3 separate regions of the Homo sapiens genome follow, and regions 2 and 3 are each linked to region 1. A link means that fine-mapping ties the variant in region 1 to the expression of a gene that starts in the linked region. Tissue or cell type: whole blood. Region 1 holds a variant in brackets; each other region holds the start of a gene. Each region is shown on its reference strand, or each on the opposite one. Region 1 overlaps PPARA (peroxisome proliferator activated receptor alpha). Region 2 holds the start of ACADVL (acyl-CoA dehydrogenase very long chain). Region 3 holds the start of CREB3L3 (cAMP responsive element binding protein 3 like 3).

Region 1 (2,840 bases):
AGCCTTGTGGGCCACGAGCCAATTAAACCTCTTTTCTTTATAAATTACCAGGTCTCAGGGATTTCTTTATAGCAGACTAATACACCTCAAAGTAGGGATTTATTTTATTATTCTATTTTTTTTTTGAGATAGGGTCTCGATCTGTCACCCAGGCTGGAGTGCAGTGGCATGATCTCAGCTTGCTGTAACCTCTGCCTCCCGGGTTGAAGCAATTCTCATGCCTAAGCCACCCAAGTAGCTGGAATTACAGGTGTGTGCCACCCTGCTCAGCTAATTTTTGTATCTTTAGTAGAGTTGGGGTTTCTCCATGTTGGCCAGGCTGGTATCAAACTCCTGGACTCAAGCAATCTGCCCACCTTGGCCTCCCCAGAGTGCCAGGATTACAGGCATGACCCATCTTGCCTGGTCAGTTTTTTTTTTTTTAAATCCAGTTAATGCTGGGTGCCATGACTCACACCTGTAATGCCAGTGCTTTGGGAGGCCGAGGTGGGAAGATCACTTGAGGCCAGGAGTTTGAGACCAGCCTGGGAAACATCTCATCTCTACCAAAAAACAAAAACAAAACAAAACAACAACAACATCAAACATAGCCAGGTGTGGTGGTGCACACCTGTAGTCCCAGCTCCTTGGGAGGCTGAGGCAGGAGGATTGCTTGAGCCCAGGAGTTCAAGGCTGCAGTGAACTATGATTGCACCACTGCATTCCAGCCTGGGCAACAGAGCAAGAACCTATCTCTATTTAAGAAAAAATGCTCCTAAGAAATCATCTTAGTACTTGGTAAGCTATTAAGGTTTTTTTTAAGTGTATTAATTACATAGCCAGTATAATAACTTAGTTGCTAAGAGCTTTGAGGTGGCTCCAAGCAAGAAGAAAGGAGTTGTTGTTAAGCTACAGCTCAGAGTCTCAGAATGAACTGTTTCCATCTTCGCTGTCCTTTGCTTAACTGTGGGATAAATATAATTTTCTCAACATTCAACACATGTGTCCTTAATCGTCCTCTACGACACTGGTTCCATGTTGCCAAGAGAACCCAGAACAGCCGCAAACACCTACTGGATTGTTACTGGCCTTTCCTGAGAGGATGACCCGGGCTTTGACCTTGTTCATGTTGAAGTTCTTCAAGTAGGCCTCGTAGATTCTCTTGGCCAGAGATTTGAGATCTGCAGTTTCAGAATCTTCTATGTCATGTTCACAGGTAAGAATTTCTGCTTTCAGTTTTGCTTTCTCAGATCTTGGCATTCGTCCAAAACGAATCGCTAGGGTTTGGAGGGGGAAACACAGGCATGAGCAGTGAGGTCATGACTGCGCGGACAGGGCTGGACGAGGGGCTCCCCCAGGACTTTAAACCAGGAATGAAAATTCACAGGCAGTTCAGACCCATCCTTCATTACTATTCGGCTTTCCACTATGGAGAGATGAAAAACTCAAACTCCATACACTGTAGATGTTTAAACAGGTGCAGGCTGAAGGTGACACCATCGTTAACAGGTGCAGGCTGAAGGTGACACCATCGTTCGTCTCATTAGTAGGGTGCACACCACTATCAGGTGCATCATCAACCTTTGAGTGAAGGAGGTGAACGGGGCTT[C/T]GGGATGAGTTTATATAATAACTGCTTCTTTTTCCAGAAGGTAGACATGCAACTCTTATGAACGACTTACATTCACATCACAATTAGCATGTTCTGAAACTATTAAATGATTGGCTAGAAGGAAATTCATAACGTGGTGAGATGTTTGAGGTGGTACACCCTTCCTATGGACGAGGTGAACATTCTGTCATTTTGGTGCCTTCCACTTGGTTTTTCGATTCTGTATCAAAGTCTTACCACTGAAGTTTCTAACAGCGAGTCCAATGCACCACTGAATCTCAGCTATTTGAGACTTTTTCTTTTTTTTTCTTTTTTTTTGAGACGGAGTCGCACTCTGTCGCCCAGGCTGGAGTGCAGTGGTGCGATCTCAGCTCACTGCAACCTCCGCCTCCCGGGTTCAAGCTATTCTCCTGTCTCATCCTCCCAAGTAGCTGGGATTACAGGTGTGCACTACCATGCCCAGCTAATTTTTGTATTTTTATTAGAGACGGGGTTTTGCCATGTTCGCCAGGCTGGTCTCAAACTCCTGACCTCAAGTGATCCACCCGCCTCGGCCTCCAAAGTGCTGGGATTACAGGTGTGAACCACCGCACCTGGGAGACTTTTATTTTCTTTCTTTCTTTCTTTTTCTTTTTTTTTTTTTTGTGAGACGGAATCTCCCTCTGTCGCCCAGGCTGGAGTGCAGTGGCGCAATCTCAGCTCACTGCAACCTCCGCCTCCCGGGTTCAAGCGATTCTTCTGCCTCAGCCTCCCGAGTAGCTGGGACTACAGGCATGTGCCACCACACCCAGCTAATTTTTGCATTCTTAGTAGAGACGGGGTTTCACCATATTGGCCAGGCTGGTCTCAAACTCCTGACCTGAGGTGATCCACCCACCTCAGCCTCCCAAAGTGCTGGGATTACAGGCGTGAACCACCGCGCCTGGGCGACTTTTATTTTCTTAGGCCACTCTGATTACAAAATGACTTGGGTGTGAAATGTTGAAGCACATTCATCCATAGCTTGATCTGTTCCCTTGGAGCAAGGAAGGGGAACTGAGGAACGAACTGGGAAAATGTGCAGGGCCACCTTACCTACCGTTGTGTGACATCCCGACAGAAAGGCACTTGTGAAATCGACAATACTGGCATTTGTTTCTGTTCTTTTTCTGGATCTTGCAGCTGCGGTCGCACTTGTCATACACCAGCTTGAGTCGAATCGTTCGCCGAAAGAAGCCCTGTGAGGGTAATACACAGTGGATTTAAAGACCTG
Region 2 (2,500 bases), not on the chromosome of region 1:
TGGGGAAGGCACAGGATCCCACATCCAGGCTCCTTTTGAGCTTAACATCTCCAAACACCTCACCAGGGACCAAGCCCCGAGTCATTCCTTACCTCGAAGAAACGGGACACAGGCTCCACCAGCTCTTTAAGAAACTGTGTCTGCTCTTCGTTGAGCACTGCAGAGGGTGGGGGACAGGCTGGTCAGGCCAGGCTGGCAGGGGAAACCACCCTGGCCCCACCCAGCTCTGATTATCCCTTCCCTTACCGGACGGGTATGGGAACACCTGATCTGTGGTGAGCTGGCCTTTGAACATTCCCACAGCAAAGGACTTAGATTCCTGGGCAGAGAGAGGCAAATTTCAGGGCTCTGGTTGGGTCTGGCTAAGGTCCACCTGGCCTCGGGGCTACCTACCGCCTTGGCCGGTTTTTTCCTGGTCAGAGCGTCAGAGGGGTGGGAATCTGACTTGTCCAGAGCCAGCTGGGAAAAGAGACGGTTAGCAAGTTCAGGGAAGGGACTTCCGCTGTGTCAAGGGGAGAACAGGCGAGAGCCGCGCGGGGAGGCGGCGCGAAGCGGTGACCTTTCCCCTAGTTTCGCCCTAGGGCACCCTGGCTTGCCCTTTCCCCTACTTTCGGCGACTGAGCAGTAGGCAGGTACCTGGCACCAAGAGGGAGATCCCTGCCGATGGCGGGCGCCGAAGCGGACCGCCGCTCCCACACCCCCTTGCCAAGGCTGCGGTGACTTACCTGAGCGGCACCCCCGGCATAGGGCCGCCGGGCAGGGCCGGGCCGGGGCTGCCCCAGGAGCGCCGTGAGCCGCGAGCTGTGGGGAGTGGGGGTTCAGTGCCGGCCCGGTGCCCAGGGCCGCTGCCCACCGTCCCTCTTGTCACACACAGACCTTCCGCCCCCGAGCCTCAGCAGCTGCCGCCCCAAGCTCGCGGCCATCCGAGCCGCCTGCATCTCCGAATCTCTCCGGGCGCCGCTGGCTCGAGCTCTGACCCAGCTCTGGCGTCCTGCACGCCCACGTCCTGGCGCCCCTAACCCTGACTCATCGTCCACAGTGCACCGGGCGGCGGACGGTTGCGGGCCCCGGGGCATGCTGGGAGCTGTAGTTCCCTGGAGCCCGGCCCTGCGTTCCGCTGACTTAGAGGGATCTCCAAGCGTCCCTCGTCTCCCCCAAACTCCTTAATCCCGCCCGTCCGACCTAGAGTCTAGTCCTCCGACGGGGTGATGGGATAGGATGGGACAGAAGAGGAAGGGGCTTAAGTCACTGCAGCCAGAGGGATGGAGGTGGACTGAAGGGAGGGCTTCTCCGGTGGGGTTAGAAGGGAAAAGTAGGGAAAGAGAAGTGTAAGGTAGATGGCAGAGGCAGAGACATGGAAAGACAGACTCTAGGGTTCCTGATGAAATCTATCTCGGCCAACACAAAAGGGAGGGTACAGTGGTGGGGGGCACCCAAGCTAGGGTGTGAGTACCCTAAGTGTATTCTTCTGAGATGTAGGCCATTCACTAACTCTTGGAACAGCTACAGTTTCACAGTAGGAAGACCCCCCCAGATTCACTGCCCCTCCCTTAGTAAAGCCTCTGAGACCTTCCTGAACATTCCCTTCTGTCTTTGCCCTCTGTTCCTTCCAGAGACCATGTGCCCAGGCAGATGGATTCCTCCCGGGCCTGAGAGGAACTGCAGGAATTCTCCTGCCTCTTACCCGTAAAACCCCAACTTCTCTAGCCCTAGGGCAGGAAGTCCCAAACAATTTCTACCCCTTTTTCTGCAATTCTCATTGGGGTGAGAGGAGGCCCAGGAGGAGAGAGAGCTGGGCTCAGCTTCTTTTTGAGCTGCTGGAGCCCTCTGTGAGGAGGCCCTCTTTGCTGGCTTCTCAGGAGAGCGTGGCTAGGTTCTGCCTGCCTATGGGAAGAGGGGGCCAGGGTGTGTGGAGCAAGATGGTGGCGGTGCTGGTGCCTTGGGACCTGGGGGAATGGGACAGCTGGTCGGCTCAGAGACGGCCTACTTTACTCACAGCTGGAATTTAGTGGGGAGAAGCAGCTCAACTCCAATCCTGGAGGATTAGGGAGATTAAAGTGAGAGAAGAGAGAGATGTCCCAGAGACCAAGAGGTGAAAAACAGGGCTCCTTGTGGAGGGGAGGTCTGGGAGCGAAGTGGGGGGCTGGGGCTCGGAGATCCTTCTCCCCAAATCTTTCCGTAGGGGCTGGGGTGAAGGGCACAGTCTGGGGAGATGAAGTGACAGTGTGTTCATCTTCCTGTGTTGGCATCTTCCCTGTCCCAATTCTCCTTGCATCTCACTAGCTCCCAGGTCAGCCCTCTGGCTCCTGGCACCCCCACTGCTGCGGTGGGCACCCCCACTCCTCACAGTGCTGCATAGCGACCTCTTCCAGGCCTTGCTGGGTGAGTAGCCCGTTTTCTGAGGGACCTGGGCCTCCAAGGGCCATTACTGAACTTCGGGGGCTGTTTGGGAGCCCAGAGATCATTTGGTCCAAGCTGGAGCACCATGCAGGGTCCTGCC
Region 3 (2,840 bases), not on the chromosome of region 1:
CTGCAGTGGACTCCTCACCTGGTCCTTGACGTGACCCCAGCCCTCGCCCAGCTCCACGTGTCTCAGGATGCCGTCCTGCCGGTCAAACAGGAGATCCAGGAGCTCAAAGCTGTCGATGGGGTCCATGGAGCAGGCAGCAGAAGCCATCTGGGGCGCGAGGAACAGATGTGAGGGTCACATACAGCCCCTGTCCTCCCCACCTCCCATGTGCACATAACCCTGGCTCTTTCCGGCTAGAGTTCAGTTGCCGCTCTGCCTCCGGGTTGGGCCAGCTGCTGCCCCTCGCTGAGACTCCCTTTCCAAATCTGGACTTTGAGGCTGATAGAGAGAATTCCACAGTGTGAGAGCCAATTTCTCTTAAAGTGCTGGAGAGGCTGGATGTGGTGGCTCATGCCTGTAATCTCAGCACTTTGGGAGGCCGGGGCAGGAGGATCACTTGAGCCCAGGAGTTCAAGACCAGCCTGCGCAACATAGAGACCCCTATCCCTACTGCAAATAATTTAAAAAAATTAGCTGGCTGCGGTGGCACACACTTGTCGTCCCAGCTACTGGGGAGGCTGAGGTAGGAGGATCCCTTGAACCCAGGAGGTTGAGGCTGCAGTGAGCTATGGCCACCCCACTGCACTCCACCCTGGGTCACAGAGCAAGACCTTGTTTCAAAAAACAAAAAAGTATGGCAGGCACGGTGGCTCACATCTGTAATCCCAGCACTCTGGGAAGCCGAGGCGGGCAGCTCACCTGAAGTCAGGAGTTTGAGACCAGCCTAGCCAACATGGTGAAACCCTGTCTCTAGGAAAAGTACAAAAATTAGCCGGGCGTGGTGGTGCACACCTGTAATCCCAACTACTTGGGAGGCTGAGGCAGGAAGATCTCTTGAACCCAGGAGGTGGAAGTTGCAGTGAGCTGAGATCGTGCCATTGCACTCTAGCCTGGGTGACAGAGGGAGACTCCATCTCAAAAAATAAAAATAAAAATAAAATAAAATAAAATAAAAAGTGCTGGAGAGAGGCCCTAGCTAGAGATGCCGCTTGCCTCTCAGGCCTTCACAGCCTCCCCAAGTGCCCGCTCCTAGGAGGCAGGGGGACCTGGAAGAAAGACAAGGGCAGCCCCGGGGCAAAGGCACACAGTTTTGCTCATTGCATCCTTTCTCTGGGCCTCAGTCTTCCCATCTGTACAATAGGGGTGGAGATGGGGTCCTTCCAGCTCTGGCAGCTTGGGTAGGCTTTCCCAGCCTAGACTCCCGCTCTCCCTGGGGACCTAGTAGGGCTCACCTTTCCAGCAGCTAAATCCGTATTCATGGGTCCATCCAGTTCTGTCTGCAGATGCCTCGGGGGGTCTCTGCTCCAAGCTGGAGGCCCACCCACCGCCAGCGTTACCTGGGGCCGGGCAAGCTCACAGCCCTCTGTGGCTCTGTCACCACTCCCAAAAGATGCTGAAGCGGTCACAGGCAGCTCCCAGCCCACCTCCAGGTGCTGATTGGTGGACAGGGTGGAGAGACAGGGTTGAGGGCCAGTGACACTGGGGCAGGCAGGAGCAGGGGAGGGAAGACCGTTATCTGGGTGTTTTGTGGTTTTCCAGCCCTCAGTGAGCAAAGGTCGAAGTCTGGGGTACCTCCACTCTGCCGTGACCTCTGCCCTACTTATGAGGACTTTTTCTTTTTTTCTTTCTTTTTTGAGACGGAGTCTCGCTCTGTGGCCCAAGCTGGAGTGCAGTGGTGCCATCTCATTTCGGCTCACTGCAACCTCTGCCTCTTGGGTTCAAGTGATTCTCCTGCCTCAGCCTCCCGAGTAGCTGGGACTACAGGTCCCCATCACCATGCCCGGCTAACTTTTGTATTTTTAGTAGAGACGAGGTTTCATCATGTTTTCCAGGCTGGTCTCGAACTCCTGACCTCGTGATCGGCCCCTCAGTCTCCCAAAGTGCGGGGATTACAGGCGTGAGCCACCGCACCCGGCCAGTTACAGGACTTTTTCTCTTCAGAATTCCCAGATGGGTTCTGGGATAGCCCAGGGCCCTTACATGGGTCCTGTCCACTCCCTGGACAGAAACAAACCAAGAGGACCAGACCAGATCTTCACTGAAGCCAGTTTTCCTGCCAGCAGCTAGCGGCTCCCATCCTTCACCCCACCTGCCAACCTCCGGCCCCCAGCCCCCTCCGAAACCAGCTTGGACTCCGCCTCTGAGTCCCCATGGGTGATTCTGTGCAATCAATTCTCTCTAGAATCTTCTATCGTTCATTGAGTCAACAAATATTTATGGAGCCAAACTGGTTCCTGCTTAGGGCCTTTGCACCTACTCACCTGCTCGCCCCTCTGCCTGGAACTCTCCTCTTGTACCCTCCCTCTTCCCCTCTGGCTCTAGGTCACTGTATTGACATTTTAGTGAATGTTCGATATTTGTGAATCAGCCCGGGTGGCTGAGAGGTGTCTCTGACCTCCCCTCCACCCCCTACCAAGAGAGAGGAGCCCTGTTTTGTTTTTTTGTTTTTTTTTTTGGTGTTGGTGGAGGACAGGGTCTCACTCTATTGCCCAGGCTGGAGTGCAGTGGCAGGATCATAGCTCACTGCAGCCTCCAACTCCTGGGTTCAAGTGATCCTCCCGTCTCAGCCTCCCAAGTAGCTAGGACTGCAGGCGTGCACCACCACACCTGGCTAATTTTGTTTTTTTTTTTTTATAGAGATGGGGTCTTACTGTGTTGGCCAGTATGGTCTCAAACTCCTGGGCTCAAATGATCCACCTGCTTCAGCCTCCCAAAGTGCTGGATTTACAGGCATGAGCCACTGTGCCCAGGCAAAGTCCCCCTTTAGCAGATGACATATTAGACCAAGCGTGGTGGCTCAC

Evidence for each region.
Region 2: ACADVL starts here. The variant in region 1 is fine-mapped to the expression of ACADVL in whole blood (TOPMed, PIP 0.94).
Region 3: it holds the start of CREB3L3, and the variant in region 1 is fine-mapped to the expression of CREB3L3 in whole blood (TOPMed, PIP 0.99).

The regions. Positions count from the first base shown.
Region 1 is chr22:46,218,228-46,221,067 of GRCh38, reverse strand. PPARA (peroxisome proliferator activated receptor alpha) reads right to left here. Exons shown (of 9, transcript NM_005036.6): 6 at 2,667-2,805; 7 at 1,054-1,256. Among named protein-coding and RNA genes, the nearest start is that of CDPF1, 31 kb to the left of the region's middle. The variant C/T (reference allele first, on the strand shown) is at 1,589.
Region 2 is chr17:7,218,423-7,220,922 of GRCh38, reverse strand. It overlaps ACADVL (acyl-CoA dehydrogenase very long chain), which reads right to left and starts at 985. Exons shown (of 20, transcript NM_000018.4): 1 at 877-985; 2 at 726-801; 3 at 394-459; 4 at 247-319; 5 at 93-157. The coding sequence starts at 938. It also overlaps a transcript of DLG4 not described here. RefSeq lists an enhancer at 86-693 and a silencer at 652-861.
Region 3 is chr19:4,152,206-4,155,045 of GRCh38, reverse strand. CREB3L3 (cAMP responsive element binding protein 3 like 3) reads right to left here and starts at 1,415. Exons shown (of 10, transcript NM_032607.3): 1 at 1,272-1,415; 2 at 19-147. The coding sequence starts at 1,298.